7 separate regions of the Homo sapiens genome follow, and all the other regions are linked to region 4. The links come from fine-mapping of genetic effects on gene expression. A gene starts in region 4. Each other region holds a variant in brackets. All regions are shown on one strand. Distances are from middle to middle.

Region 1 (4,390 bases), 22 kb after region 4:
TCTGATGTATATTACAGGACCTTTCCTTCCCCTTCCCTTCCCACCCACCTCCAAAAAAGAAACAAAAATCCCATGTTTACTGAAGCCCTCTTGAAATAGTAATAGTTGCCCTTCAGAAAGAGCCACCAGTTGGTATTCACACCTATTCTATTCCATCACCAGGCATTTTTGCCATTTTGTAAAATCAGTTTGGAAATAAAAATGTAAACTTAGATGTGACAAGATGCACAGCCTCTTTGGGTTATACCTTGTATCCTGTAAGCAGATTGAACCCCAGGTAATTTTGACAGTGTAGGAGGGACTGGTCCCTGGCTCTTGCCCAGGAAACTCTTCCGATTAGAGTTCATATCTTGTGACGAGTATTCTGAAGTTACAGCATCTCTTTTAAGCTATTTGGACAGTAGAGGCCTCTAATAACCAACTTCAGTTTTTCTTTGTTACAGCAGTAGATCCTATATTAACTAGAAGAGCAGAGATCTGGGATTACAGGCGCATGCCACCATGCCTGACTAATTTTTGTATTTTTTGTAGAGACGGGGTTTTGCCATGTTGCCCAGGCTGGTCTCAAACTCCTGGGCTCAAGCGATCTGCCCGCCTTGGCCTCCCAAAGTGCTGGGATTACAGGCATGAGCCACTGTGTCTGGCTCATAGCCCCCATTTCATTTGGTGCCTGGGACTGCGCACCAGCTGCCCCATAGAGCATGCAGGCAGGCATCCCCATAGAGCATGCAGGCAGGCAGCCCCATAGAGCATGCAGGCAGGCGTCTGCACTCTGGCTCATCTAAGGCACCTGTGGGTAATTTGCCACCCTTGGCAATTGGCTTTCCAAAGCCTGGCTGTGTCCATTCCCTGCCTCCTCATGGCCAACCATAATCTGGCCATGGTGGATTCTTCCTTGTTCTGTTAACACCTCAGGTATCATTTTATGCATACAGTTGCGCTCTTGCCTCTTTTAAATTGAAGCCTTAAGGACAACTGTAGACGTTCCCTCACCGAAACCCTAGACCAGGGGTGTCCAATTTTTTGGCTTCCCTGGGCCATATTGGAAGAATTGTCTTGAGGCACTCATAGAATACACCAACAATAGCTGATGAGCTTTAAAAAAAAAAAAAATCACAAAATAAATCTCATAATGTTTTAAGAAAGTTTACGAATTTGTGTTGGGCCTCATTCAAAGCTGTCCTGGGCCACATGTGGCCCATGCTTTGTGGGTTGGACAAGCTTGCCCTGGACTGTAAGCTCTGTGAGGGCAAATTCCTGTCATACTAGTCTCCTGGGCTTTTCCAGAAGCCCCATGCTTTTTTATGCCTCTTTCCCCTTTGATGTACTGTTTCCTGTCCCCGAAACACCTGCCTTCATCATCCCGCTAGGTCTTGTTCCTACCAATCTCCCATTCAAACCCCTGTTTTTCCACAAAAGCCCATCTCACATATTACCACCTCTGTAAATCCTTTTCTAACTTATTCAGGGTGACCGAATTCTGTGTTTCTGTGCCCCCTTAATACTTGTTATATAAGTCTCCTTCCCCAACCACCCCCACACTTACCACATCACGTTAGCAAGAATGAGAGCAATTTGAGGGCAGTGGCTTTGTATCTTATTTATAGCCCTGGCACCAAAACAGTTTGTTGAATGAATTTGATAAAATCAGACGTATAGGGCTGGGCACAGTGGCTCACGCCTGTAATCCCAGCACTTTGGGAGGCCGAGGTAGGCGGATCACGAGGTCAGGAGATCGAGACCATCTTGGCTACCATGGTGAAACCCCATCTCTACTAAAAATACAAAAAATTAGCCGGGTATGGTGGCGGGTGCCTGTAGTCCCAGCTACTCAGGAGGCAGAGGCAGGAGAATGGCATGAACCCGGGAGGCAGAGCTTGCAGTGAGCCGAGATCACGCCACTGCACTCCAGCCTGGGCGACAGAGCAAGACTCTGTCTCAAAAAAAAAAAAAAAAATCAGACATATAATGGTTACATAGTAAACACTGGTAACTTTTTAAAAGTCACATGTGTATTCAGTACTTGAAAGTTAAGGTTGTTGGGAATATGGTGGTTAATAGCACAGTTGAACATAATGGAAGAATTCACTACCTTAGAATGATCAGTTTCTGTTTTGATACATTTCGTACCAAAATTTCTTCTACAACTCATCAATTATTCTTCGTTGTTTGTTTCACACCATTCTCGAAATCTCACATACTCTTTTCTCAAATTCAGGGAGTCATGTGATATTTCTTGTTTTATTCACAGAGGGCTGGTTTTTAAGTTTGGCCGCACTGAAGACTTATGGCAGTGAACACATCTGATTTCCCACAGCACAACAGCCCTGCATGGGTTTGTTTGTTTTTTTACTGCTCACTCCCAACCTTTTGTAATGCCATTTTCTAAACTTATTTCTGAGTGTAGT[C/G]TCAGCTTAAAGTTGTGTAATACTAAAATCACGAGAACACCTAAACAACAACCAAAAATCTATTGTGGTATGCACTTGATTAACTTATAAAATGTTAGAGGAAACTTTCACATGAATAATTTTTGTCAAATTTTATCATGGTATAATTTGTAAAAATAAAAAGAAATTACAAAAGAAATTATGGATTTGTCAATGTAAGTATTTGTCATATCTGAGGTCCAAAACCACAATGAAAGTGCTCTGAAGATTTAATGTGTTTATTCAAATGTGGTCTCTTCTGTGTCAAATGTTAAATGAAATATAAACATTTTTTAGTTTTTAAAATATTCCGTGGTCAAAATTCTTCCTCACTATAATTGGTATTTACTTTTACCAAAAATTCTGTGAACATGTAATGTAACTGGCTTTTGAGGGTCTCCCAAGGGGTGAGTGGACGTGTTGGAAGAGAGAAGCACCATGGTCCAGCCACCAGGCTCCCTGTGTCCCTTCCATGGGAAGGTCTTCCGCTGTGCCTCTCATTCCAAGGGCAGGAAGATGTGACTCAGCCATGACACGTGGTTCTGGTGGGATGCACAGTCACTCCACATCCACCATTGAAGGAAAGGAAAAAAGGGCAGAGACTTGACACTCCAGTCTTAGACAGGGGACAATTTCTTTGTAGTTGTTCTGATAATAAACTGGGTTCCATGTTGCATTTCATCTGTGTACTGAACCACTAGCCTAATAGACCAGCACGGTCAACTAGAATGACAAACATTAGCTACTGGGAACTCTTGTTGTCTCTTCCTCTTCAGAACTCTTGTCCCCCCAGGCTCCCCACCTCTGCAAGATGGGATACACTCTTCAGGACCACAGTTTGAAATGTCTTTCATAAAATGTGCTACAATTAGCCTTCGGAATATTTGCTGGGTGATTTAAATGTGTGGGTCTCATTTCCATGCTAGCCATGGTCATCTGACAGTCTCTACACTGTGAATATTGCCTGGTGATCAAGACTCTCCTCAAAGAAATGACTTGCTGTCATCCCACATGAACTCCTGATGTTTTTTCTACAAAAGTCCATAAAATGTGAAAACTGGAGAAGATCTTAGAGGTTGAAGCCCACCTTCTCTTTTCACATAGGAGGGAACAGACCATGGAAATTTAAACGACTTCCTCACGGTCACAGAACTAGTTTTTTAATCCTCAGGCAGTGCATCCCCCCACCCTACAACTGAGCACAACCTCTTTCCCCACAGTGCAATTCAGAATATGCTCAGGGAATGCCAGCCACCTTGTAAAACTGCTGGGAGAAAAGCATGATTCCCACAAGGACTAAGTATCAGTGATTTGTAATTTTCCTGTTTTGTATTATCTGCTTTGCTGATGTAGACAAGAGTTAACTGAGTAGCATGCTTTATTAAGCATGAGAAAGAATCTTAAGAATTGTCAATAAAATTAACCCAAAACTTTAATAATGTGTCTGTAACCAAGAAAATATTGATAGCATCATCCTAATGAAACTAAACATTTATTTTAAACTTATTAAATTGACTCTTAAACTAAGTTTTTAGTCTTTAATTTTTTAATATCAAATCTGTCTCTGACCTTGTTTCATTATACATAAGGAGACTTTGCTGTCATGAGCGTTTCTCACGTACAAATGCAGGCAACAGTGAGAGGAAGTTGTCTTGTTTTTGAACAGGCCTTGTTTTTCTTGGATGCTTTTGCTTAAAATCCAACAGCCAAATGAGGAAACTGTAAAAGCAAAACAAACATTTTTATTGCAGATGAACCCACATACTGATTTTGGCTTGATCTCTTGAAACAGCCTAAATGTCTCATTACAAAGACCTTAGAAATTCTTTCATAAAATCTGAATTGGAAGAGATCTTGGATATATAGGTTTTATTTCATCTAACGTTTTACATGGATTGTTGATAAATGGCCATCTGGCTTTTATTTGAATGCCTCCAAAGACAGAGGACTCACTACTGCCATAT
Region 2 (4,409 bases), 210 kb after region 4:
GTATTAGGAATACCTAATTCCAGGTGAGAAGAAATGCCTCCGCCTCCAAAAACCTGATCTTTTGCTAGAATTAAGGTAGTTTGCTGCATGATAAAGTAGTATGGTCTCATGGTCAGGAGCTTGGGCTTTAGAGTCAGTCCTTTGAGTCTCAGTTTCCTCTCTGTAAAATGGGAATGAGAGAATGCCTGCTTGCAAGGTGGCTGTGAGTGTTAGAGGTGATGGTAATAGCTATGGCTTTATTATTGTTGCATCTTTGTTATATGAAAGCGCTGTTTTTCCCTGATGATGGTGCTGTTATTCTGAACTTGAGAGCAGGGTCTGTGTCTGAGTTGCTCCAGGGCCCCATCACTCAACCCAGGACTGGGGACATCTCAGGGACTTTCACATTCTTTTGGAGGATCAAATGGAATAGGCTTGTGGTTGATGGGACAGAGGATAAGGTCATGTTGGGCTTTGGGGTCATCTCAGTGGAGACCTGGCCTCATGTTGGGGTGGAGGCCCAGGGATGAGATCTAGGGCTGGAGGGTCACTGGGCCTGGGGCCAGGGCTGGGGATGGGATGGGGTTGTCCTCGTCATTTCTTCCTTGAGCGAGTATTGAGCGCTACCTGCATGCCAGGTTCTAGATGACAGTCAGTAAGTCCCTGCTCACCTGATCTCAAGACATGAGGGGAACTGGGTACATCTGTAAGTTCCTGTATAACCCTCCCCAGCCCTGACACCCGCACCCTCTTTCAGATGAAGAAATGGCCTCAGAGAGGGACAGTGGCTTGCTCAAGGCAAATCCAGAGAAATGTGGGTGTACAAGGCTCCTTCTGGCTGTGGAGAGGGGGACCAGAGCCCCTGGAGGCCCAGGGCTCTAGGATAGGAGCTGAGAGGGGCAGCAGGGATCCAGACTGGGTAGGGGACCTGGTGATGCCACCTGGACCCAGACTTCTGCTCTTGACAGAGCCGGAACTCCAGAACCAAGCTGAGCCTTGTAGTAGGGGCCCACATCCCTGCCAGAGCCTCAGCTGCCCTGGAACTAGCAATACCCAAACTTTCTTCCTGTGGCTTTTCAATCAGAGCCAGTGAGGAAGGCCTCAGGAGGAGGTAGGGAGGGCCCAGGACATCTCCCAGCCCCTCCCTGGGGGATGGTCTAGGGAAGCTGGCCCTGGCTACCTCTCGTGGCCCCTGGAAGCTGATTCCTGGCTGGATCCTGCTCTGTCCTCAACAAGATTGTGTGTGAGGCTGAAGAGCAGTTTTCTTTCTCATCTGTAAAATGGTGCAGTCATAACAAACACCTCCTACAAGCACAGCATCTGTGAGGGTTTCCTCTCTGTAAAATGGGACAGAGAGGTAGGGGACAGGAAGGGGCTCTGGCAGGTGGAAGTGTGAGGTGTTCATTCATCTTTCTTCATGTCCTCCTTCCGAGGAGCCGGGGATGGTCAGAAACTGTCAGTGCAGCCTGCTTTTGCCCTCATGCCCATTTGCCTCCACGGGGCCCTCACCTACGTGGTGGGGCGCTCTTTCCACGTGTCCCTCCTGGTCCATTTGCCCACCCAGTGAGGCAGGCTCATCCCCTTATTTCCTGACATTTGTGTGGTTGGTGCTTTTAGAGAACTCTCCTTGTGGACTCTGTTCTGCACCATTGTCACAGCCCAGAGAGGGGGGAATGTTAGTCCCAAAGAGGAGAGGGGACTTCCCTAGGACCATCCAGGGGGTGGGAAGCAGAGTGGGTCTCGAACCTTCTCCGATTTGGGAAATCGCCTTCTCCTCTCCCCACCCACCCTTACCCTTCCCTGCTCTCCCTGGGCTACTGTCTCCTGCCCAGCCTCCCACATGCCCCTGTTGGTCTCTACGGATGCGCACAGGGAGGAAAGCAGTGCAGGCTGGGGCCATGGGAACCGCTCAGGGTTGAAGTCCGACTCATTGTATGTGGCCTTCATCTCATGACTTTGCCTCCCTGAGCCTCAGTCTCCTAATCTGTAGAATCATTGTCTCACAGGATTGCACTAAGGATTCAGTAAGAAATGGTATGATTTGCCCTCAGCAAGTGGTAGCATTGAAGTAAAGAGGGCTCAGGGCTTGAAAATAGGGCTCGAAACTTGGCTCTTGCACTTCCTGGCTCTCTGGACTTGGTTATGTGATTGAGCCTCCATGGCCTCC[G/A]TGTCTTTGTCTGTCAATGGGTTTGATTAAAGCGTTGACCTCATAGGTTCTTAGGAGGATTAATGAGAACATTTTATGTAAAGCTGCTTACATGGAGCCTTGGTATGTGCCGGAAAGCTTTAGCCCTTTATTAAAAGTGACAGCAGACCCAGCACGGTGGCTCATGCCTGTAATCCCAGCACTTTGGGAGGCTGAGGCGGGCAGATCACTTGGGGTCAGGAGTTCGAGACCAGCTACTCGGGAGGCAGAGGCAGGAGAATCGCTTGAACCTGGGGTGCAGAGGTTGCAGTAAGCTGAGCTCGCACCACTGCACTCCAGCCTGAGTGACAGAGTGAAACTCAGTCTCAAAAAAAAAAAAAAAAAAAGAGTGGCAGTAGTGGTGGGGGAGACCCCCATCCCCCTTGCTGGGGTTTCCTAGGAAAGAAGGCTGGTGAGAGCTGTTGCTGGTGGTGGGCCCTGAGCCGCAGGGTCTGAGGGCCTACCCTGTGCTACCCCAGAGCTGCCTGAGAACTGGACAGACACGCGGGAGACGCTGCTGGAGGGGATGCTGTTCAGCCTCAAGTACCTGGGCATGACGCTAGTGGAGCAGCCCAAGGGTGAGGAGCTGTCGGCCGCCGCCATCAAGAGGATCGTGGCTACAGTGAGCACCCCAGTCAGGAAGGGTGGGGGAACCAGGGACCAAGGACCAGCTTCTTCCCAGGGTGCCCTCGTCCCAGCTTGTTACTCCAGTTGGGTGTGTCTGAGCCTGGCCCTGCCCTTCATTCTCCTTCCATCCAGCTTTTGGGCCTTGGCAGAGGGGAACCATTGGACTTGCAAGGTCACGGTTAGTGGCTTCCCTCCAGCCATTATGGCCTCTTCCAGCCTCCCCACCCCCAGCTCAGGCTCCCTACCAATGCATTGGTGACTTATCAGCACCAGGAAGGGTGGGGAGTTTGCTTTCCCTTGACTACCTGCCCAATGGCCTGAGAGACAGCATAGCCCATCAGAGAGCAGATTGCCCCCTCCCTAACTTTGAGCAAGGGTGGGCCTTTTAAATCCACTTCCCTTGGTGGCCTCAGACCCCTCAGCTCAATGGATGGAGCAGAGTACTCAGGAGTCATCCTGCTGGGTTGTGCTAGCTCATTCAGTGCCGAGTCTGCAGGCCCTTCTAGCTGTGTGTCCTTGGGTAAGTCCCTTAGCCTCTCTGAGTCCATCTCTGGGGAGAGGGAGGATGACTCCAGGTCCACGGTGCCTGACAGATAGCTGGTGCTCAGCAGATGCTGCTCCTGTTTCTATTGCAAGAAGGTGCTGGCTGAGTGGTCTTGCCCACACTGCTGCCAGTCACCTGAGCTGAGATGGGCCCCGTGCCTGGGGCTTAGGAACAGTGAAGTGTAAGCCATGAGGGTGGGTCTCAAGTGAGGCTGGCAGACTCCTCTGACTCCTGTCTGCTCCCAAGGCTAAGGCCAGTGGGAAGAAGCTGCAGAAGGTGACTCTGAAGGTGTCGCCACGGGGAATTATCCTGACAGACAACCTCACCAACCAGCTCATTGAGAACGTGTCCATATACAGGTACGCTCAGCATGGGGTTGGCCCATCCACTCTGCCACTTGGGGCAGTGGGTGGAGTATCCCATCTGAATCCAGGCTCTACCACTTCCTACCTGGGTGACATTGGAGCCTCAGTTTCCTCATCTGTAAAATGGGGGTGGGAACAGATCCTGCTGCACAGCGCTGTTAGGAAACGTGGAGTGCACGGCACCTGGCTCATGATGAGCATTTGGTTAAGTGGCAGCTGCTGCTGTCATCATCACCAGTTGCAGAAGACAGCTGAGCCCACCCGTGCCCTTCCCCCCTACTCCCCACCAGCATGCCGCTGAGTCGGGCTTGGAGCAGAGAACTGCAGAGTCACTGCCTTTTCCTTCTGCTGTGAATGCAGCAGCTCAGCTCTGGGTATCTGGCCAGACATTCCAGGGAGGCCTCAGCCAAGGTCTGAAGTCAGAGTATAGATGGTCTCTCTAGTGGGTCCTCTGGTCAGCCCTTAGAGCCTCAGACTATCCCCACCTCTCTCGGCTGGTCAGTTGTAGTTTTTCAGAACTGGAAGGGACAGCTCAGGTCCATTTTACAGATGGAGAAGCTGAGGCCCAGAGAGGGAATTGCCTAAGGCTGCACAGTGAGGTAGTAGCTAAACTGGAACTAGGATATCCGGGCCAGAGCCCTGTCCAGCAGGCTCCCGTCTGCCTGGCATCCCTCCACCCTCTTGCTTTGTCTCTAAGCAGATGGCTCAG
Region 3 (4,409 bases), 120 kb after region 4:
ACAAAAATTAGCCAGGCATGGTGGTGTGTGCCTGTAATCCCAGCTGCTCAGGAGGCTGAGGCAGGAAAATCGCTTGAACCCAGGAGGCAGAGGTTGCAGTGAGCTGAGATTGCACCTGTACTTCACTGCACTCCAGCACTCCACTGCACTCCAGCCTGGGCGACAGAGCGAGACTCTGTCTCCAAAAAAAAAAGAAAAAAGAAAAAAAAAAGAAAAGGAAAAAAAGTACCTATTTTTGATATGTTAAATTCATAAGAGTGGTTGAGACCATTAGCTGGCTTCACAGAGCATCCAGTGACAACTTCACTCAGGTACTAGGACTAAGGGAGGTTCTCCTTAGAAGCAGATTTAGTACTGTCTCTGTGAACTTGGGCCCAGTTTATTTAAACTCTGGGGTTTACTCTTCAACAAAATGAGGAAGTTAGACAAAATGATCTTCCTAGTTTGAAGATACTATGATTTTTCTTTAGTTTCATCCCAAAGATCCTTAGCAAAAAGCCTTCAGGTCACTGATTTTTTCCCCCTCGTGCCCATGTAGTCCACATTCATAAATATCCCGTTATTAGTCATGTCCTGATATAGATGGACCTAGCCTGCAGATTTTGATTCGAAAAGCCAGTGGACATTTGCCTTTATTTGCATCTTATTTTGTTGCAAGTTGCTTTTTCCTCCCTTGAAAATTGTTTTTAATTACAAAGGGAATATGAGTTTGTGCTTCAGAAAAAATTTTTTTGAACAGTACTTAAGTGTCAGAAACATTTCTTTGTCCTACAACTTGTTCTTACTTAAGGATTATTTTTTTTATGTCATTCCATGACAATGCAGATCTTCCTCATTCTTTAGGAACCTTCAACATATTTCATTATATAGATTTATCATAAACAGTTTCCTGTTGATGAACATTTAAATTCTAAATTTTTGCTATTGCAAATAATATTACGGTGAATTGTTTTTTTTTTTTTTTTGAGGCAGAGTCTCGCTCTGTTGCCCAGGCTTGAGTGCAGTGGCGCAATCTCGGCTCACTGCAACCTCCGCCTCCTGGGTTCAAGCAATTCCCTTGCCTCAGCCTCCCGAGTAACTGGAATTACAGGTGTGCACCACCATGCCCAGCTAATTTTTGTGTTTTTAGTAGAGATGGGGTTTCACCATGTTAGTCAGGCTGGTCTTGAACTCCTGACCTCGTGATCCACCCACCTTGGCCTCCCAAAGTGCTGGGATTACAAGCATGAGCCACCACGCCTGGCCCTACAGTGAATTTTTTTTTTTTTTTTTTGAGATGGAGTTTCGCTCTTGTTGCCCAGGCTGAAGTGCAATGATGCAATCTCGGCTCACCGCAACCTCTGCCTCCCGGGTTCAAGCGATTCTCCTGCCTTAGCCTCCCAAGTAGCTGAGATTACAGGCGCCTGCCACCACGCCCGGCTAATGTTTGTATTTTTAGTAGAAACAGGGTTTTGCCATGTTGGCCAGGCTGGTCTTGACTCCCGACCTCAGGTGATCCGCCCTCCTCGGCCTCCCAAAGTGCTGGGATTACAGGTGTGAGCCACTGCGCCCAGCCCAGTGAATATTTTTATGTATTTATCTCAAGACTCTTTTATGTTTCTATGGGGTAGATTCTTAGAAGTGGAATTTCTGGGCCGGGCACGGTGGCTCACGCCTGTAATCCCAGCACTTTGGGAGGCTGAGGTGGGCGGATCACGAGGTCAGCAGATGGAGACCATCCTGGCTAACACGGTGAAACCCTGTCTCTACTAAAAATACAAAAAATTAGCCGGTCGTGGTGGTGGGCGCCTATAGTCCCAGCTATTTGAGAGGTTGAGGCAGGAGAATTGCTTGAACCTGAGAGGCGGAGCTTGCAGTGAGCCGAGATCACGCCACTGCACTCCAGCCTGGGCGACAGAGTGAGACTCCCT[C/CA]AAAAAAAAAAAAAAAAAAAAAGAAGTGGAATTTCTGGGTAAAAGAAAGGTACAAGTATTTAAATTTAAATATACTGCCAAATTGCTATCTAAAATGGTTGTCCCAATTTATATTATTGCCGAGTATGAAAATGAACCTTTGCCCATACCCTCCCTATGCTATTATCTGTCTTTAAAAATTTTATCTAATAGTTAAGAAAATGGAATCTGATTGGTTTAATTTGTATTTCTCTAATCAGTAGTTAACATCTTTTTCTATGTTTTTTAGCCATCTGTATTCTTTTGTGACTCGTAAATTATTTTCTTTAGTTAGCTTTTTATTGATTTGTAGGAGCTCTTTGTATGTCAGGGCTATGAATCCTTTGTTTTACATACATTGTAAATATTTTTTGCCAGGATGTTTGTCTTTTATTTTTGTCAGCGATTCTGTGGAATCATTTGTCATATAAAAGCTTTCAGTTTGGATCAGTTTGCCTTTTAATTTAGTTTAGGTGAAGGTCTTAATGAAAGTTACTGTCGTCAAATTAGTCTCCCAAACAATCCATCTGTTAGTTACTATATCGTTTATTAATGCTTGCCTCTCTGCTGCTTTCTCACAGAAAGGGGAGTGTGTTTGCCTACAGTGTCTCTCTGGATCCTCTTTGTTTATATTGAAGCAGCCATTAGATTTAAAGATCTCAAAAACTTTCATGTAGACCTTTGTCGTCCATTTGCTGCTCACTGGTAAGTATTACATAAATGTATGTGTGTGTGTGTGTATATGTGTGTATGTATATATATGTGTGTGTGTGTGTGTGTGTGTGTGTGTGTGTATATATATATATATATATTTTTTTTTTTTTTAGACGGAGTCTTGCTCTGTCACCCAGGCTGGAATGCAGTGGCACGATCTTGGTTATGCAACCTCTGCCTCCCGGCTTCAAGCGATTTTCCTGCCTCAGCCTCCCAAGTAGCTGGGATTACAGGCGCGTGCCACCACACCTGGCTAATTTTTGTATTTTTAGTAGAGACAGGGTTTCATCATATTGGCCAGACTGGTCTCGAACTCCTGACCTCAAGTGATCCACCTGCCTCAGCCTCCCAAAGTGCTGGGATTATAGGTGTGAGCCAGTGCACCCAGCCAGTATTATATATATTCTTTGTCTATAATTCATTTCACTGTAGAATGTTAAGTTCAACTGTAAATTTATTCTTAGAAATTTTACATGGATCCAGAAAGCAGTACAGCATGGTTGGAAAGACCATGAGCCCCCCCTTTTCAGGCAGATGAGTGAATCCCAGCTCTGTCCTCTGACAGCTTGTGTTGCCTTGTCACTGCCTCTAAGCCATGGTTTTCTTACCTGCCTCACTGGGTCATGGGAAAAAGGAACTGAAGTGATACATGTATTCAACTTAATGCCAAGCACATAGGTGTCTGATGAATGTTAGCTATGTTTATTATAATCAGGTAATGATTCCAGAAGGTCTTGATGAAATATATGGCTAATTCATGAAACTTAAAATAATTTAGAATTTCCTTAGCCTATTTATAAAAGTAAGAGAATATTATTAATAATTTTTGAATGAATATTATTTCTCTTTATGTTAATGAATATTAAGATATTATTCATTTAATCTTAACCATGAAACATTTTTGAAAAATGAGCTTGGTTCTTATTTAGATCTATTGTGGAACTTACCACCTAATGTATGTTTCTCCTAAACACACCAATTTTTACTAATATTTATGGCAGAAACCAAAATAAACAGTAATCAACTAAAAAAATACTGTTTCCAGTATTTTTAGTCTTTTTACAAACAAGTAAATTAAATGAACTTGGTCAGTAAAACATGTCACCGTAAGTTTGTAGTGAGACCACATTTAGACTAATTATAAATTGATACATTTTCATGTTAGTGAAACTTATATGGGCTTGACAGTGTTTGCAGAGGCTTTGAAATGATGTTAGGCAGGCTGGTAAGTTCAATGAAAATATTTAACTTTCTATCCCAGAGATTAGAGTTCTAAGTACAGCTGGTTTAATTTGGTGATACAAACCAAATCTTGGCACTGATCATATCGGATACTTATTTAAATGATTCTTGAATTTATGTATGACAGAATTTATATATGACAGAGTGTTTGTGAACCAATCTTCAAGGAATAGCTGGTGACAGTACCCCTCAGGCAGCAAGAAGATTAAATTAGTCACCTGAATTTGACCCTGCCTTCTAGTATTGAAAATCAAATGATGTCCTTGTGATTTTTTTTTTTAACACTTATGTTTACTTTTGGCTACCTGTAAAGTCTCTACCCTTTTAGTTTTTAAAAGCATACAGGCCAGGCGTGGTGGCTCACACCTGTAATCCCAGCACTTTGGGAGGCCAAGGCGAGTGGATCACGAGGTCGAGAGATCGAGACCATCCTGGCCAACATGGTGAAACCCTGTCTCTACTAAAATTACAAAAATTAGCTGGGCATGGTGATGCAGGCCTGTAGTCCCAGCTACTCAGGAGGCT
Region 4 (4,409 bases):
AGCAGCTCCATTTTATCTACAAAAGACAAACATTCATTAAGTCCCAAAAAGGTAAAGAATGACAAATTAAGCATGTATCTTATTAGTAAGAGTAATATAAAGATGCTCACTCATATTTATAAATATTTGACAATCATGTTAAGGCCAGAAAAGAGAAAAAAGGGTAGGGGCAAAAAACGCAAAGAGAAAGGAGTTAGTATCTTTTCTCCCGCACTCATTAGCTATTAAAAGAGGATGTTTGTTTAAAGCTGCTCAGAGCTGGTAAACTAATGTTAAGTCACTAACGGGAATTTAAAAGGTTTCATTAAGAACTGCCTGCACTAGATTCCTCCACCCTGAGACATTAAACAATCACGATAAACCTCCTGAGTGGTAAGAACGTGTCCATTTAAAAACAGGCTATAGATTGTCATGCAGTTTTATCTACTAATCGGCTAATGCACCGCCAAAAACAAACAAAAAAACCCAAAGGGATGAAAGTTTCATCCATCAAAGGAAACAACAGTCACCTTGGTTCCCATCCCACTCATATACTGCCGCCGTACATGTCAATCAGATGAACCTGTGCGTATCTCTTAACGACAATTGACCCACCTTTTTAACTGAAGTGAAGGGGGGTTCTGCTCCGCGACCACTTCCTGGATCTCTCCCTTCACCCTCTGTGTTCTTTCGGGTGCACCATCGGGTCAAAGCCGCAGCAACGCCGTCTCTGTGTGATCGCATGTGCCCTTCTGCACACGACCTTCCCCCGAGAGTGACCAGCTACCGGACAGGCACCAAGGAGGGCTACCGAGCACCTCCCGGACCGGCGGCTGCAGGATCGCGAGCGCCTCCGCTAGGGAGACCGCACGTTGCGCCTGTGCTTCCTGCGGTGGCGCCTTCTGCAAGGAGACCTCGACCCTGCTCCCTCTCCGGGGCTGGATCTGACTCCTTGACGGTGATTCCAGACGCGAGACCCAAACTGACGGCTTCTAGAAGAGGGGCGAGCCCGGCCGCAAGTCTTTCACGTAGCTAAGTCATCGTTGCTTCCGGCTTCTTACCGTTCTCCCCTTTGTAAACGGTTACCTCCCGAAAACCCAGGCTCTCCTCCAACAGTGGTTCTCAAGCGAGGCGATCTTCCCCGGGAGGGGATATTTGGCAAAGTCTGGGGGCATTTTTGGTTCACTGGGGCTGCTACTTGCATCCACTGGGTAGAGGCGGGGGATGCAGCTACACAACCTGCGAAGCACGGGACAGCACCCTCCCCAACCCAGACAGAATTAGCCGGCCCAAAACCTCAGTAGTGCCCAGGCTGAGAAACCCTGCCTTAAACAAACAACAAAGAAAGGCCAAGTCCCATAAGTGGGTCACCGCGCCGAGACTGGGGTCCACGGGACACCCCAGCCACGCCAAGCCGGGAAGTCCCCGCCTCCTGGAGCTGAACCCGCCCCTCTCCCAGAGGTGGAGCTGCGGGGGGCGGGAACAGGCACGGAGAAAATAAACAAGACTAAAAAGTCCTGAGTAGCGCTGTGTGGCCGCAAACCTGAACCCACCTTTTGCACCACGCGGGACCCGGCACTCTTCCTGCCACCCACCCCTGAGAGGGCTGCGCGGCCGACCCCAGTACTAGAAAACACTCGTCACCTCACTCAAGACGGGTACGAAGGCCAACGGACGCCTTCCTTTAGAACGCTCAGCACACAGAGCAACTTCTCACGCCTACTCTCAAATGGCGTACTCCAAACTAGCACTCCCGACGTCCAGCTGTGAACCCAGAGCGGCGGAAAGCCCCTGAACCCAGCGCCCGGGCATGCGCAGACGCGTTGTTGTGGTGGGCGTGGCTCCCTCCGGACCCGGCGCCCCGCCCTCCGCCCCGTGTCCGCATGCGCGACTGAGCCGGGTGGATGGTACTGCTGCATCCGGGTGTCTGGAGGCTGTGGCCGTTTTGTTTTCTTGGCTAAAATCGGGGGAGTGAGGCGGGCCGGCGCGGCGCGACACCGGGCTCCGGAACCACTGCACGACGGGGCTGGACGTAAGTGTCGGGCGGGGAGTGGGGGTAAGAGAGTAGCGGCCGCAGGCTGGAGAGGCCTCGGAGCCGGGGCCGTCTGACGGGCTGGTGCCCACAGCACAGGCTCGTTGCCGCCACCCTCCCGGAAGCCGCAGACCCGGGCTGAGCCGCCGCGGACCTCTCCTCTCCTGGGTCCGGCGGCGCCAGGAGAAGGCGACGGCGTCCAGACCCCGCCAAGACGGAGAGGGGACCGCGCCCTCCCCCGGGACACCCCAGGATCCCTGGAAAATCCCCCGATCCCCCACTTCACAGCTGGACAAGCCGAAGCCCCGAGAAAGGAGCGTGACCCGGCCAGCTCCCTCAGCGAGGGGTGCCCCGGCTAAAGGTGGCTCCCCCATCTTCCAGCGGCGTCCCTCGAGACCTAAAAGTCCCAGAGTTTGGAGGGCGGGGTCTGGCTTGAGCGTACCAGTCGTCGTGCAAAGAAAAATGGATTCGGGGTGGGGCCATTGGGATGAACCGAAAATAACACTTATTGAATTGCAGTTCTTCCCGGGGAAGAATCAAATGAGTGAATTTCCTAAATTGAACTTGTCCCAAAGGCATCTTAGCATTGGCTGTAATCATATATTTTAATATTTAATTTTTAAAAGAGAAGTTAAAAATGGGAGACGTTGCTCTATTGTAGGGTGTCATATTTTTGGACAACCATAATTGCTGGCTACAAAGTATCTTAAGGAAGTCAAGTTCGCTGTAGGAGTTTGGGTGTTGTTATTCGCAAGTTATATGTATTTCAGGCTTTTTCATACTCTGAAATAGAGATAACATGGCTGTATCTCAGGTCTCTACTGCTCGGCTTACAGGAATGTTTTATATAATTTGTAAAGACAGCTTGGGTCGGCTATATTTAAATAGCAGTTGGATTTTTGTAATCTGAATTACTATTAACCACGATTCTGTGCTTGCTTTTGGCTGGAAACACCCGTTAGGATCAGAGATAGGGATATTAAAGTGGATGTTCTTTATATAGAAATGACACCAAAAGGCAGGCTTGCAGAAAGAAAAATAATGAATGAAGTGAAAGGAAATGATGTGGGTAGAGGTAAGAACTGCAGTGCAGTGTTTAATTTCTTGATTTAGGTGTGAAGAAACACACGTTCTGTGATAAAATATGTAAATTAGAGAAATATTTTTCATTTGAATCTGTAATTCCACTCAGAGCCAAAGTTTATCACTTGTCTCTCTACTAATGTTAGTGCTCCTGGACTGTAAATATCAAATTCATTTAATAAGTTTGGAATCAAAATGATACAAAAGAGCTCCTGTGGATTAGTAATCATATACTTGGTATTAAAAGTACCACCTAAACTAATTTAATACCTACTTAGAAATAATAGGATGTGACAGATTTTCAGGAGGAGGTCAACCAGTAGTTAAAATTTTTTCAATATTTGGAGACCCACCTTTGTTAATACTGCTTAAATATATCCAAACCATTTATTTCTATTTATTTATTATTATTTTTGAGACAGAGTCTTGCTCTGTCGCCCAGGCTGGAGTGCAGTGGCACGATCTCGGCTCACTGCAACTTTCGACTCCCAGGTTCAAGCGATTCTCCTGCCTCAGCCTCCCAAGTAGCTGCGATTACAGACATGCGCCACCACCCCCGGCTAATTTTTGTATTTTTAGTAGAGATGGGGTTTGCCATGTTGGCCAGGCTGGTCTCAAACTCCTGACCTCAGGTGACCCACCCACCTCAGCCTCCCAAATTGGTAGGATTACGGGCATGAACCACCACGCCCGGCCCCCAAACCATTTTTTACATTAAAAAAGATACTAAATGAATCCAGATATTACTTTCCAAAGTTATAATGTGGAAATTCATCAAAAACTAAATCAAATATTCTGAAGAAGTATGTGGAACCAAAATAAAGCATTTGTAATTTCACTTTTATCTAATTATTCCTGAGCTATTAATTATTTTTCGGGCTTGAAGCAAGTAAATGGAAGTACTTATTTAATTGTTTGTTTGTTTGTTTTTAAGTGACCTGAAAAAAATGTCTGGATTTCTAGAGGGCTTGAGATGCTCAGAATGCATTGACTGGGGGGAAAAGCGCAATACTATTGCTTCCATTGCTGCTGGTGTACTAGTAAGTGTCATTGATTATTTGGGCCTTATTTTTTGGTGCGTTTGTGTTTATGGGTTTTGAATTCTGCAGGATGTTTTAAAATATGTACTATTTATTTTATCTTTGACCACTTTGACCATGTTGATATTTTGTTGTTTGTGGAGAGTTATTAGTTCCACTTTAAGAGTTTATGGTTTAAAATTTGATTAACAAGTGGTTGGGTTGTTTTAACTGCATGGTAAAAATGGCATAATAAAACATTTGTTCATTATATGGATTATATCTCCTTTTAATGA
Region 5 (4,409 bases), 92 kb before region 4:
CCTTTGCTTAGTTTAAAAATTGACTTTAATACTTTATGCAAATAGTGCCTGTCCCAAATTCTAGCATGCACATGGATCTACCAACAAAAAAACTAAGTTTTCAGTGTGTGAACATAAACTTCAAATTAAACCTCTGATGCTTTAGCCCATGTATCAATTACCAACAGATTTTCTTCATCAATGTCTGCAGACCACATTCATGATTTCTATAAGACAGAAATAGAGCAGATAAACTATACTGTATATGCTGAGTACAGAATTTGTGGGAACATAATGCTGCAAATGAAAGCTACAAACACTCTGTAAATAGCTTAGAAAAACTAGTAATAGAAATCACCAAAGTACCAGCTAATAACGGTGTTATAAGAGTACACTGTTAACTGAAAATGAAAAAAATAAATGTATTTTTTGAGACAGGGTCTCGCTCTGCTGCCCAGGCTAGAGTGCAATGGTGCCATCTTGGCTCACTGCAACCTTAGCATCCTAGGCTCAAAGATCCTCCTGCCTCAGCCTCCCAAACAGCTGGGACTACAGGCATGCACCACCATGCCTGGCTAATTTTTGTATTTTTTGTAAACACGCGGTTTTGCCACATTGCCCAGGCTAGTCTTGAACTCCTGGACTCAAGCCATCTGCCTCATTACAGGCATGAGGCACCATGCACGGCCAAATAAAGCTCATTAATCTCCCATTTTCATGGGTTTGACATTGCCTATCTTCAGATTTGCTACTTTGAATTTAGCACATTATATACATCTCTAGACTTCCCAAAAAGTATAGTCTAAGATATAAGTGGCTAATCAGATTTGACAGTTGGCTTTCTGAAAGTTTTGTTCCGACAAACCTAGAATACTTACTTCAGGCTTTGCACCATTACTTGATACACCTATTCCACGGCTTGTTTCTTTGGCTGAAGGAACAGTTCTGAGACTAGCTGGCAAGTCAATGTTGGTTGTTCCTAGAGCTTTCGCTGCATTGGTTTTTGCTATTTCTAACAGCTCCATTCGATCTAAAAAAAAAAGAGAGAGATTTTAAAATACTCATTAATCTGGTAGTTATTTCCCAAGAGAACTCAGAATTACACAATAAATATGTTATTTTGTGGTATTAAATATATTAAGTCACTTGTTTTATAATAGGTAAACTAAGGTTGCCCTTGAACACTAGTAGCTGCGCTGGTCCACTTTATACTTGTTTTTTCTCCCCCTTACTAAATGCAGATAGAAAGTACCACAGTGTTTGAGAGACTGTAAACCCCAAGTGTGCGCGAGGGTTCCATATGCATCCTGGCACCAATCCCCCGAGTGAACAGAGGGACAACTGTGTAACTTTATTCACTGAAAATTCTATTCTCCAGCTCATTTCTTGCTGAAAAGAATAAAATTCTTAAATTATCTCAACAATTAGTTTTGTTTTCTTGACTAAAGGCCTGAGCGTCCTATTATTTTGTCTTTTTGTTGTACTTAATTTTCTCTAGCTAATAGTGATATTATTTTGCTTTCTCTTCAAAGATGTATTTCTGAAAACCAGGTTTTTCTGCTGTAGATTCTTTATATAATTATCACAACCACTGAACCAATACTGATACACTACTAAAGTGTATTTCTACCACCACCCCCGGCTAATTTTTGTACTTTTACTAGATAGTGAGCTATGTTGGCCAGGCTGGTATGGAACGCCTGGCCTCAAGTGACCCACCCGCCTCCGCCTCCGCCTCCCCAAGTGCTGGGATTACAGAGGTGAGCCGCCGCGCCCGGCCTCCTAGGTCACTTAGGATACTCGACAATCCAATTTTATTCAGTAATAATGTCAACTAAAAGAAGGCGTGTTTTGATATTGTTCTTCCCAATCACGTTAACTTAGAACCTTTAACTTAATCATAACATTTAAAAGGCTCCACCCACTAAGAACAGTCAGCCAATAGGAAAAAAAGTTCCCTACATCCTGAGCCATTTAACATCCAGTTGACCTTTAACCCTAAAGAGAATGCTGTCCACTTAAATACAGGTAATGTCCTCCCTCTTTCCTCCAAAAAGATTTCGGGCACTAAAGGAACTAATATTGAAACTACACAGCAACGTTGGTTCCCTAGCCTACTCATATACTGCCACCATACATTACCACAAATGGAAAGGTAAATGACCCACCCACCTTTTTCACTTAAGCGAAAGGGGGTTCTGCTCCGCGACCTCGTCCTGGA[T/G]CTGTCCCTCCATCTGCTGTGCTCCTCCGGGTACACTGTGCGACCAAAGCCGTAGTAGCGCTGTCCCCGCGCGATCGCGTACGCCCTTCCGCAGTACGACCTTCCCCGAGAGCGCGACCTGCTACGGGACCGGGACCGGTACCGCGAAGGAGACCGGTAGTATCTCCTGGTGAACCCGTAGCGCCTCTCTCGGTAACGGCGGCTGCGGGATCGCGACCGGCTCCGCGAGTATGACCGCGAGTAGCGCCTGTACTTCCGCTGGTGGCGCCTTCGGGAACGGGACCTGGACTTGCTCCTCCGACTCCTGGACGAAAACCGGCTCGAGACGCGGGAATGGGACCGAGAGCTTCTGGAAAAAGAGCGGCTCCTAGACCGCGACGACAGCCGGCTGGACCCGCCCGACCGCGAGGTCGAGGGCGAATCCTTCTCCTGCGGCGAGCCCGGCCACATGTCGTTCACGTAGTTGGACATCTTCACCTGCGGCTTTAGCCTGCGCTTTCTCCGGAAAGGATCCCGCAAGCCTCAACTCAGGACTTCCTAAAAAACCAAGAGAGAAAAAACAAGTCGAGTCGCGGAAGCCGGCGCCTGGCCACCCGGAAGCCACAGTCGGGGAACCTCCGGGAGGCGGAGCCACGGCGCGGGCGGCGACCGCCGCGACAGGAACCGAGCCCTAGAAACCCCGCTCGGCGCCCTGAGGCCGCGGCCTTGAAGCGAAACGCTGCGTTCCCCAAACGCGGGGCCCGGCACGTTTCCCGTCCCTCACTCCTGAGAGACCACTGCGGTGGTCCTGAGAGACCCCGTCAGCAGAAAACTTACCGCACGCCGTCGACGCCTCCCTCACGACTGAGAGAAAGGCTCAACAGACGCCTTCCTTTCGGAACGTAAGACGAAGTGGGGCTTTTAGTCCCTGCTTTCGAACGGCGAATTCCACAACCTCCACCTCCTACGTCCGGATGCGCACTGAGGGACTACGTTAGCAGACGCGTCAAAAGTACCAGAAGCTGGCCCCCGGCGCATGCGCAGAGATGTTCCGTGGTGGGCGCGGCTCTTCTCTTGCCCAACCACCGCCCTGCCTCCTCCCTCCCCAAGCCGCGCCCTGTGCCTCGAGCGCTTGCCTCCAGGGTGCGCATGCGCGATGGGGCTCCAGGGGGAGGTGTTTGATACATCAGGGTGTCCCGTTGCCCTTGGCTTCCCCCCTGATCTGAGATAATTGCGGGACCGACCCAGTCACCAGAAAACTTCGAAGATGGAACGGCCCCGCGTGGGGCTACACCAGGCTCTGGCCTCACTGCACGGGCGGGGCTGGACGTCAGTGCCGGGCGGGGAGTAGGGCCGGGAGAGGAGCGGCTGCAGGCTGGAGAGGGCTCGCAGCCGGGCTCGGAGCTGGGGCCGTCTGACGGGCTGGTGCCCACAGGGTCGTTGCCGCCACCCACCGGCAAGTCGCAGACCCGGCCTGAGCCTCCCTGGACCCTTCCTGGCCTCTTCCTCCTGTCCTAGGTACCGCGGCGCCAGGAGAAGGCGACCGCGTCCACACCCCGCCATGACAGAGAGGGGACCTCACCCTCCCCCGGAACACCCCAAGACCCCTGGAAATGCAGTATTAACGTAGAAAAGATGTTTTACTTCCATGTTTTGGCTAGGAAGGTAATAAGGTCGAGACAAAATAAAAAGACTCAAAACTGACCTTTAATCTGGGGATAATAATGAAGTCTGCGATATCTCTTCCAAAAACTGTGTTTGGTGTGAGTGTAAACAAAGGTGACTATTTTACTTCTAGGGATCTACAAATGGGATGCATTTCAAACACTTCTTGTAATAAAGCATAACAATTGCCTTGAAAATTGTGGGTTAATTGCCTTTTTTTTTTTTTTTTTTTTTGAGACAGGGTCTCACTCGCCCAGGCTGGAGTGTGGTGGGGCCATCACGGCTCACTGCAGCCCAGGCTCCCGAAGAGCTGGAACTACAGGCATGCACCACCATGCTAATTTTTGCACTTTTTTACCCACGGGATCTAACTGTGTTGCCCAGGCTGGTCTCCAACTCCTGGGCTCAAGCGATTCTTCCGCCTCAGCCTCCTGAAGTTTTGGGATTACAGGCGTGAGCCACTTTGCCCAGCCTATACACTTCTTTACAAGTACATTTTGACAAAAGCCACTTTCTTTAGAGGGAGACACAAACTCACTCATCTCTTGTTCATCTTCACCCCACA
Region 6 (4,409 bases), 130 kb before region 4:
GCCTAGCACACCTTTTCTCAAGAGCACCCACAAACACTTTTGTTATTACTTCTGCCTTGTGCACCTGTCAACACTTCCCAAGACAACAAACATAGAACGCTGGGGAATAAAACACCAACATGCCCCAGCACATTTATTTCCAGATGCCCTAGTGTGACTCTGCTTACAAAAGGGACCTTTTTCCAGCAGTCAAAGTCAGTCTCTGGGTGGGATCATGAGCCCACTCCTAGGCAGGGTAATGTGTTTACAGGCCAACACTGAGAGTTAAAAACTAGCCCTGGATCTAACAAATTGTCCTGACCATGCATTTGTTTTTTGCCTCGTTTCCTTCCCATGGCCCGACGATGGCAAGCTGCAGGTACATCTGTTCTGAAGAGCAGCCTCCCGCCCTTGGTCACTCTGTCCCGTGTCTCTCAGATGTTTAGTCCCGCGGACTGGGACCTGCTACACTTGGGCCAAGGCTTCTGGCTCCTCTCACTAAAGGCCTCAATTTAACTTAACGGACTAAATAAGGAACCATTTCTATATGATTAATTAATTAGGGTTCTGCTAGGAAGGATAATAATATAATAATGTAAGTAAGACTGCAAGGCCTAGCTACCAGCCTATAAAAAGAACACCAAGCACAGCACAATTAGGAAGACATTCAAGACGGAGGAAGCTCGGAGCCGTGGACTCAGCTCTGACTAATGCCAAGATTGGTTCATGGGGTTCAAATTCAGGGTCCAGCTGGCCTGCCTTAGAGAGTTACCTGACTTTTTTTTTTTTTTTGACAGAATTTTGCTCTTACTGCCCAGGCTGGAGTGTAATGGCATGATCTCGGCTCACTGCAACCTCCGCCTCCCAGGTTCAAGTGATTCTCCTGCCTCAGCCTCCCAAGTAGCTGGGATTACAGACATGAGCCACCACACCCAGCTAATTTTGTATTCTTAATAGAGATGGGTTTCCTCCATGTTGGTCAAGCTGGTCTTGAACTCCCGACCTCAGGCAATCCACCTGCCTCAGCCTCCCAAAGTGCTGGGATTACAGGTGTGAGCCACCGCGCCCAGCTGAGAATTACGTGACTTCTCTGAGCTGTTGCCTTCTTCTGAAAGATAGAAGAATTGATGTGTATTTGTCAGAGTATTGTGGAAATTCAATAAATGCAATATATGAAAATTACCCAGCACAAAATAGGCTCAAAACACCTGGAAAATATTGCTTAAGAAATTCCAGACCGGGCGCAGTAGCTCACACCTGTAATCCCAGCACTTTGGGAGGCTAAGGCACGCAGATCATCTGATGTCAGAAGTTCGAGACCAGCCTTACTAACAAGGCAAAACCCTGTCTCTACTAAAAATACAGAAATGGTGATGCATGCCTGTAGTCCTAGCTACTGAGGAGACTGAGGCAGGAGAATCACTTGAAGCCAGGAGGCAGAGGTTGCAGTGAGCCGAGATCACATCACTGCACTCCAGCCTGGGCAACAGAGTGAGACTCTGTCTTAAAAAAAAAAAAAAGAAAGGAAAGAAAGAAAAAGAAAAAAAAAAGAAAGAAATTCCAGTGCAGTAGCTGGTACTAAAGATGGAAATAAATGCAAAGAGTTTTGTGTAATGTGGTCCATTCTGTTTTATTGGCAAATGTCTTCTTTTTCTCTGCACTTTAATATGCACATTCACAAGTCCTTTGAAAGAAAGTGCATGAAAATTTAAAACAGATGTAAATTAAAATCCCAACAGGAATCATCTTCATTGATTACAGATGGATAAATAGTTGTTATTTACAGATGAGTCAAGGTGATCCTAATTGGTAGGTTTTCTGGTTGGTATTTGTATTTGAGGGCATTAGCATAGCAATTGAAAGCCTCTCGATGTCCCCTCTCCACGCCTCACCCAAGCCTCTTATCTCCTCCATGCTGCTCCTACTCTCTCCCCACCCCCCAAAAACATTCTTGGCCACTTCAGTACTCAAGGTCTCCCACCTTGGGTCCCTCAACTCTCCTGGAGCTAATGACCCAATTCCTCAAGGCCTTGCTAAATAACCTCTGCATCTATCTAACCCTTTTTCTGTAAAGAGCCAGATAGTAAATATTTTAGGCCATCTGTCAACTCTGCCACTGTAAGCTGAAAGTAGCCACAGACAATATGCAAATAAGTGAGGCTGTATTCCAATAAAATGTTATTTACAGGCCGGGCTTGGTGGCTCACGCCTGTAATCCCAGCACTTTGGGAGGCCGAGGCAGGCAGATCACGAGGTCAAAAGATCGAAACCATCCTGACCAACATGGTGAAACCCCGTCTCTACTAAAAATACAAAAATTATCTGGGTGTGGTGGCGTGAACCTGGCTGAGACAGGAGAATCACTTGAACCTGGGAGGTGGAGGTTGCAGTGAGCCAAGATCGTGCCACTGCACTCCAGCCTGGGCGACAGAGCAAGACTCCGTAAAAAAAAAAAAAATAATAAATAAAAAATAAAAAATTAACCGGGCGTGGTGGTGCACACCTGTAATCCCAGCTACTCGGGAGGCTGAGGCAG[G/A]AGAATCACTCGAACCAGGGAGGCAGATGTTGAAAGTGAGCCGAGATCGCGCCACTGCACTCCTGCCTGGGCGGCAGAGTGAGACCTTGTCTCAAAAAAATAAAAATAAAAATAAAAAGCAGATTGCTGGGCCCCACTGCCAGAGCTTCTGATTCAGTAGGTCTGGGTGGAGGCCAGAGAATTCACATTTTTAACAAATTCCTGGGTGCTGCTGTTCCAGGGACGACACTATGGGAACCACTGGCTGCATGTTAAAAAAAAACCTGAAAGTACACTGCCCCCTAGTGGGAAGTTCCTAGAAGTACCCCATACCAAATATTGCTTTGATTTTAGAATATACAAAAAATTGCGTTATCTTTTGCCATGGAGAAGAATCAAATTCACAAAGCCAATTTGTCATTCATATACTTGGGATTCCATAACCACATTCCAAGCTTCTCTCAAGAAATGAGGTGTCACATTATTTACAATAACATGGCAGTGATTTAAAATCAAGTTAAACCAGAAACATATTATTTTCCACCAGGGGAAAAACACTTTAAATAATCTAAATAGAATAAAACTGCTGCTGGCTCTGTTCTCTGGCCACTCTCCCATTGCCAGACGCACAGACCTCTCCTGAGAAGCAAAATCTACACCCGATCCAAGCTGAGGCAGCTGATGAAATTCAGCAGGAGATGGGTCAAAATCAGCTCGTGTCAGACCCCAGAGTCTGTGATCTTTGGACACACAGAACTGTATCAGTGGTGAAGGACCCCATTAATAGGCAACTGTTAAATATTTGCTACACATGGTAGAAAACAATGAAAGCCTCTTGTTAAAGCTGAGAGCTCCTGCTCACCTCTGGTTTTCATTTCTCACATCATATTTACATTAACCCAAATTTGTCACTGGTTTCCACCGTGCATTCAAAATTTCCACAAAAGCACTTCTGTTTTCCCCATGAAAACTGCATTCCGACATGCCGGAAGTGAAATTACCCACTCCTACCTATCTGTCCCAGCAAAAGACCTGGGTCTCTAACTCTACCTCTCACAAAGTAAAAGGGTGTTACAGTCACCAATGGCAGATGACTTGGGAGTCCATGCTTAGCAAGCTGCAGGGTTTTGGCAGCATAGAGAAACATATTAGAGCCATGCTACAAAAGATGGCCTGGTACCAGGAGAACGGAAATGACAGGGACCGGAATGGTTTTTGAGGCCAAAAATTTATATTTGATCTCCAGATGTGATGCAGCTGACAGCTAATTAGTTTGACTTAGATCTACACAAATCCAACCCCCCTTTCTTCCACACATGCTGTGGGGATGCTGGTGTGAAAATGTGTCTGCCTGGGGTCGCGCTTTGATTGAGAATTCTCTGGAATGAACACACTTGGAATCCCTGAGAACACTGAAGCCCCGGCACATGGGACATCTGGTGAGATGCTCTTTCTCCTTTCAGCTTGACCCAAGAGCAGGTAATGAAGTGGTGTTCTTTATTCAAGTGGCTGATTCCAACCTAACAAGGCTGGAGTAAACTGTTCAGCTTCATGTTTCAGTGTGCGAGGCCACCATTAACTGCAAACCTCAGTGGTCAAGAGCTACCGGATGTGAATGCTGCGGCTACTAATGAAAAAGCAATTGTGGTACATTCGCTGCAGAGCTGTTTGTGAGCAATGAGAAAGACACACAGAGCAAGATGGGGGCCCTCCCTGGCAGGACACACTGAGGCAGACACAGGTCCTGCTTGTCCAGCTGCCATTCCTCCCTGCTTCCTTGCTGGTTAGGATGTTATAGCTATCGAGGACAGCAGAAGTACCAAGACCTTAGCTACCCCAGAGGATCAGAGCTAACACTTATGGCACCTTACTATGTGCAAGGCAATTTTAGAAGCACATTTTTTTTTTTTTTTTT
Region 7 (4,409 bases), 150 kb before region 4:
TACTAGGGAGGCTGAGACAGGAGAATCACTTGAACCCAGGAGGCAGAGGTTGCAGTGAGCCAAGATCGTGCCACTGCATTCTAGCCTGGGTGACAGAGCAAGACTCCATCTCAAAAAAAAAAAAAAAAAAAAAAAAAAACTCACATCTAAGCAAGTTGTTTAGATGTTGGAGGGTTTTGCTGTGTTGAAGGGGGGTGCTGGGTGGTTTTTGCCATTTCACATTGCCTGTTGCTTTTGGGTCAGGGACAGGGGTCACCAGCTGACTTGGGGGTATAGAAACCTGATTCGGACATTTCACACACCACAGGAGGAAAGCATCCACTTAGCAAGGGCTGCGCCAACTGGCAGGTGTTCACATCTGTCTTCAAAGGCCTTATGACCTATGACAGCATCAGCACCATTCAGAGGCCAGGGAGGGTTGGGCAGCACAAAATCTGGAGGGAATCTACAGTAGCCCCCGCCCCGCTCCCCCCCCAGCACCCTCAGGTCCACAGGGGAGATGAGCGATCTAATTAAAAGGGTGTGAGGGTGCGATGACGGCGGCAATAAGAACCTCCTGGCTCTCTGGAGGTCTCTGTCCTTCCTGAGAGCCCTAAGCGTCTTCTCAAAGACAAGGCTTATTTGTCCTGCAACAGTTCTGTGAAGGTAGAATCCCACAGAAGCTGTATCATTGAGTTCTAAGCAAAGTTGAGGCCCAGAGAGGTTAAAGGTCATGCTCGGTGGCTTTTGTCCAAGGTCATACTGTATGATAAAAAAATAAACTGAAATTGGCAGTTTCTTAAAAGTTAAACACACATCTAACATGCAACCCAGGCAGCCCACTCCTAGATACCAACCCAAGAAAAATGAAAGCATATGTGCACATGAAGACTTGTACCCAAATATTTACAGTTTTATTCATAACAGCCAAAAACTAAAAACAGCTGAACTATCCATCAAAAGGTGAATGGATAAGCAAATTGGGATATACCCTTATGCTGGAATGCTATTCAGCTATAAAAAGAAATAAATTAGGTCAGATGTGGTGGCTCGCACCAGTAATCCCAGCATTTTGGGAGGCTGAGGTGGGGGATTGCTTGAGCCTAGGAGTTCAAGAGCAGCCTGGGCAACATAGTGAGACCCCATCTCTCAAAAAATAAAAATAAAAATAAGGGCCGGGCGCAGTGGTTCACACTTGTAGTCCCAGCACTTTGGGAGGCTGTGGCAGGAGGATCACTTGAGCCCAGGAGTTTGAGACCAGCCTGGGCAACATAGTGAGACCCCATCTCTCAAAAAAAATAATAATAAAAATGAAGAGCTGGGTGCAGTGGCCACACTGGTAATCCTAGCACTTTGGGAGGCCAAGGCAGGCGGATCGCCTGAGCTCAGGAGTTTGACACCAGCCCGGGCAACATGTTGAAACCTCGTCACCACTAAAAATACAAAATATTAGTCGGGCATGGCGACGTGCACCTGTAGTCCCAGCTACTCGGGAGGCTGAGGCAGGAGAATGGCGTGAACCCGGGAGGCGGAGCTTGCAGTGAGCCAAGATAGCTCCACTGCACTCCAGCCTGGGCGACAGAGCGAGACTCCATCTCAAAAAACAAAAAAGAAATCAGACTGAAAAAGAAAAAAAACAAAGAGTACATACTATAGACTCTATTCATACAAAATTCCAGAAGATGCAAACTAATGTATCTTAGTAGAAAGCAAATCAAGATCACCTGGGGACAGGAGGAATGGATTACTAAGCAC[G/A]TGAGGAAACCTTTAGGGGTGATGGAGCCGTTCACTATCTTGATTGTGGTGATAGTTTAACAGGTACATACATATGTTAAAATTTATCAAATGGAGCACTTTAAATATGTGCAGTTTATTATCTGTCAATTATACCTCAACAAAGCTGTAATAAAAGTTGTTGTAATTTTTTTGTATCTTCCTATATAAAAGCAATTTTTTTTACTTTTTTAATATAAAAAGGGAAGCCAAGCATGGCAGCATGTGCCTGTAGTCCCAGCTACTTGGGAGACTAAGGTGGGAGGATTGCTTGAGCCCAGGAGTTTGAGAACAGCATAGGCAACATCCCAAGACCCCATCTCTTAAAATAATGTTAATAATAGGCTGGGCATGGTGGCTCACACCTGTAACCTCAGCACTTTGGGAGGCCGAGGTGGGCGGATTGCTTGAGGTCAGTAGTTCAAGACCAGCCTGACCAACATGGCGAAACCCCACCTCTACTAAAAATACAAAAATTAGCCAGACATGGTGGCATGCGCCTGTAATCCCAGCTACTCAGGAGGCTGAGGAAGGAAAATCACTTACCAGGGAGGCAGAGGTTGCAGGAAGCAGAGACTGCACCACTGCACTCCAGCCTGGGCGACAGAGTGAGACTCCATCTCAAAAATAAATAAATAAATAAATAAATAAATAAATAATATGGCGTGGGGTTTTTGTTTGTTTGTTTGTTTTGAGACGGAGTTTTGCTCTCGTTGCCCAGGCTGGAGTGCAATGGCACAATCTCGGCTCACCACAACCTCCGCCTCCCAGATTCAAGTGATTCTCCTGCCTCAGCCTCCCGAGTAGCTGAGATTACAGGCATGCGCCACCACGCCCGGCTAATTTTTGTACTATTAGTAGAGACGGGGTTTCACCATGTTGGCCAGGCTGGTCTCAAACTCCTGACCTCATGATCTGCCCACCGTGGCCTCCCAAAGTGCTGGAATCACAGGCATGAGCCACCGCGCCCGGCCATAAATAAATAAATAACATGTTTTAAATGTTCTCTTAGCCTTAGTGCCACCTTCTTAGAAACCTACTTGCCATGAGAGCCAAACACAGGCTAAAACGCAAAAGAAGAAAGATGGGGCAGAGGTGGAAGCCTGTGTACCCATGGAGGCAGAGGGAGTGCCAGAGGCTGAGGACACTGGTACAACCGTTGGACTGCATGCTACTGTCTACAACTTGTCTTTCAATGGATCCAGAACATCCATCGCCATCTGATCACCAAGAGCACCTCTAAGAGATCCCCCTTGGTCACCAAAGCAGTCCCTTTTGTCCTCTGCCCTGGACCTGGGACAGCCTGGACTAGTTCTGTTCTCAGTGGTGGCTGAGTGTAACACATATACACTAAATCATCTCTTCCGTTGTCGCAGCCAAAGAATCGAAAAAAATTTAAAAAGGGGAGGGGATGACAAGTAAAAGAAGAAACACAAGGAGGAAAATAAGGTACTAGAAATGGTGTCAGGATGCAGAATATAAGCCATGCTACCTGCTAGAGGTGGGACTCAAATTTGTTTCTAAGTTTTCTAGCAGTGAAGGCAAAGAAGAGGAGGGATATTAACATGATTCCAAGTCCAGGAGCTAGAAATGAAATCAGTTGTTTAGGAAGACCCACTCCTGAGCACATGAGGCTGTTGGTCTCATAATTTCTCTGAAATAGTACATACCCATTGTCAACGAGATTCTTAATAGTGCAGGCAGAAGCTGTGGTGTGCTAGTAAATGTCTAACAACAAGCTCATGGGGTGGATTGGGTGATGTGTAGTGTTTGCCAGTTTCTGTGGTGTAAATACTCCCACCACAGCCAATTTCAAGCTACTTAAGTGAAGTCACTGAACACCAGGTAAAATAACCTCAAGAGTATAATAATAGCAAAATGTAGAAAAATCATTAGGCCGTGGGGAGTTTTGAATACTTATTGTCTTTTTAAATATAATCCAATTGTAAGCTCATATAATTTGATTTTGTTTTGTTTTGTTTTGTTTTAGACAGGGTCTCACTCTGTCACCCAGGCTGGAGCACAATGTTGCTGTCACAGCTCACTGCATCCTCAACCTCCTGGGTTCAAGCGATCCTCCCACCTCAGCCTCCTGAGTAGCTGGGACCCCAGGCCTGTGCCACCACGACTGGCTAATTTTTGTATTTTTTTGTAGACACAGGGTTTTGCCATGTTGCCCAAGCTGGTCCCAAACTCCTGGACTCAAGCCATCTGCCCACTTCAGCCTCCCAAAGTGCTGGGATGACAGGTGTGAGCCACCGCACCTGGCCTATAATTTGATTTTTAATGCTGCTGGCTCATGAAATGCCTGAAGATTGAATGAAGTTGAGCACACCAACTTAGACGCTGTGGCCAAATCCGAAGTTCCCACGTGTCCCAAGTCCCGTGGTTGGATGTGGCGATCCCAGCTGGGTGGCAAGGGAGGTGACAGAAGCCACCTGTCAGACACAGATGGAGATGGTGCTGTACGTGGTACTAAGGCTGTGCATAACAAGGAACTAGTTGGCTGCCCCGTGGGCCCTCAGGGAGCGACAGACCAGCAACCTCTGAGGATTAAGTCAGGGGCTCCCAGCTGAACACATGCTTCAGAAATGCCCTCAGCCACGGGAAGTTTCTCTGTGTGTCTGGATACAGACTCACAGGATCCAGGGCAGACA

Alleles and levels. Alleles are on the strand shown, and positions count from the first base shown. SD is a standard deviation of normalised expression in the study named. Not every link is listed here.
In carriers of allele C in region 3, the expression in monocytes after LPS of the gene that starts at base 1,889 in region 4 tends to be higher than with CA alone (moderate effect, 0.60 SD a copy in Kim-Hellmuth 2017).

What was found. PIP is the estimated chance that this variant, and not a neighbour inherited with it, causes the effect.
Region 1: its variant is fine-mapped to the expression of TMEM50A in whole blood (TOPMed, PIP above 0.99).
Region 2: its variant is fine-mapped to the expression of TMEM50A in whole blood (INTERVAL, PIP above 0.99).
Region 3: its variant is fine-mapped to the expression of TMEM50A in monocytes after LPS (Kim-Hellmuth 2017, PIP 0.93).
Region 5: its variant is fine-mapped to the expression of TMEM50A in whole blood (INTERVAL, PIP above 0.99).
Region 6: its variant is fine-mapped to the expression of TMEM50A in whole blood (TOPMed, PIP above 0.99).
Region 7: its variant is fine-mapped to the expression of TMEM50A in whole blood (INTERVAL, PIP above 0.99).

Annotation. Positions count from the first base shown.
Region 1 is chr1:25,358,409-25,362,798 of GRCh38, forward strand. It overlaps TMEM50A (transmembrane protein 50A), which reads left to right. Exons shown (of 7, transcript NM_014313.4): 7 at 2,252-3,953. The coding sequence ends at 2,297. It overlaps RHCE (Rh blood group CcEe antigens), which reads right to left. Exons shown (of 10, transcript NM_020485.8): 10 at 3,841-4,145. The coding sequence ends at 4,119. Among named protein-coding and RNA genes, the nearest start is that of TMEM50A, 22 kb to the left of the region's middle. The variant C/G (reference allele first, on the strand shown) is at 2,409.
Region 2 is chr1:25,551,279-25,555,687 of GRCh38, forward strand. It overlaps LDLRAP1 (low density lipoprotein receptor adaptor protein 1), which reads left to right. Exons shown (of 9, transcript NM_015627.3): 2 at 2,644-2,786; 3 at 3,582-3,694. Among named protein-coding and RNA genes, the nearest start is that of LDLRAP1, 9.9 kb to the left of the region's middle. The variant G/A (reference allele first, on the strand shown) is at 2,147.
Region 3 is chr1:25,451,750-25,456,158 of GRCh38, forward strand. It overlaps MACO1 (macoilin 1), which reads left to right. Exons shown (of 11, transcript NM_018202.6): 4 at 2,510-2,633. Among named protein-coding and RNA genes, the nearest start is that of MACO1, 23 kb to the left of the region's middle. The variant C/CA (reference allele first, on the strand shown) is at 1,911.
Region 4 is chr1:25,336,446-25,340,854 of GRCh38, forward strand. TMEM50A (transmembrane protein 50A) reads left to right here and starts at 1,889. Exons shown (of 7, transcript NM_014313.4): 1 at 1,889-2,011; 2 at 4,029-4,134. The coding sequence starts at 4,042. It also overlaps a transcript of RSRP1 not described here. RefSeq lists silencers at 433-727, 1,719-1,838.
Region 5 is chr1:25,244,293-25,248,701 of GRCh38, forward strand. RSRP1 (arginine and serine rich protein 1) reads right to left here and starts at 3,162. Exons shown (of 5, transcript NM_020317.5): 1 at 3,017-3,162; 2 at 2,152-2,737; 3 at 858-1,009. The coding sequence starts at 2,671. RefSeq lists enhancers at 1,953-2,677, 2,678-3,402. The variant T/G (reference allele first, on the strand shown) is at 2,201.
Region 6 is chr1:25,202,245-25,206,653 of GRCh38, forward strand. No RefSeq gene overlaps it. Among named protein-coding and RNA genes, the nearest start is that of SYF2, 28 kb to the right of the region's middle. The variant G/A (reference allele first, on the strand shown) is at 2,516.
Region 7 is chr1:25,186,969-25,191,377 of GRCh38, forward strand. No RefSeq gene overlaps it. Among named protein-coding and RNA genes, the nearest start is that of SYF2, 43 kb to the right of the region's middle. The variant G/A (reference allele first, on the strand shown) is at 1,735.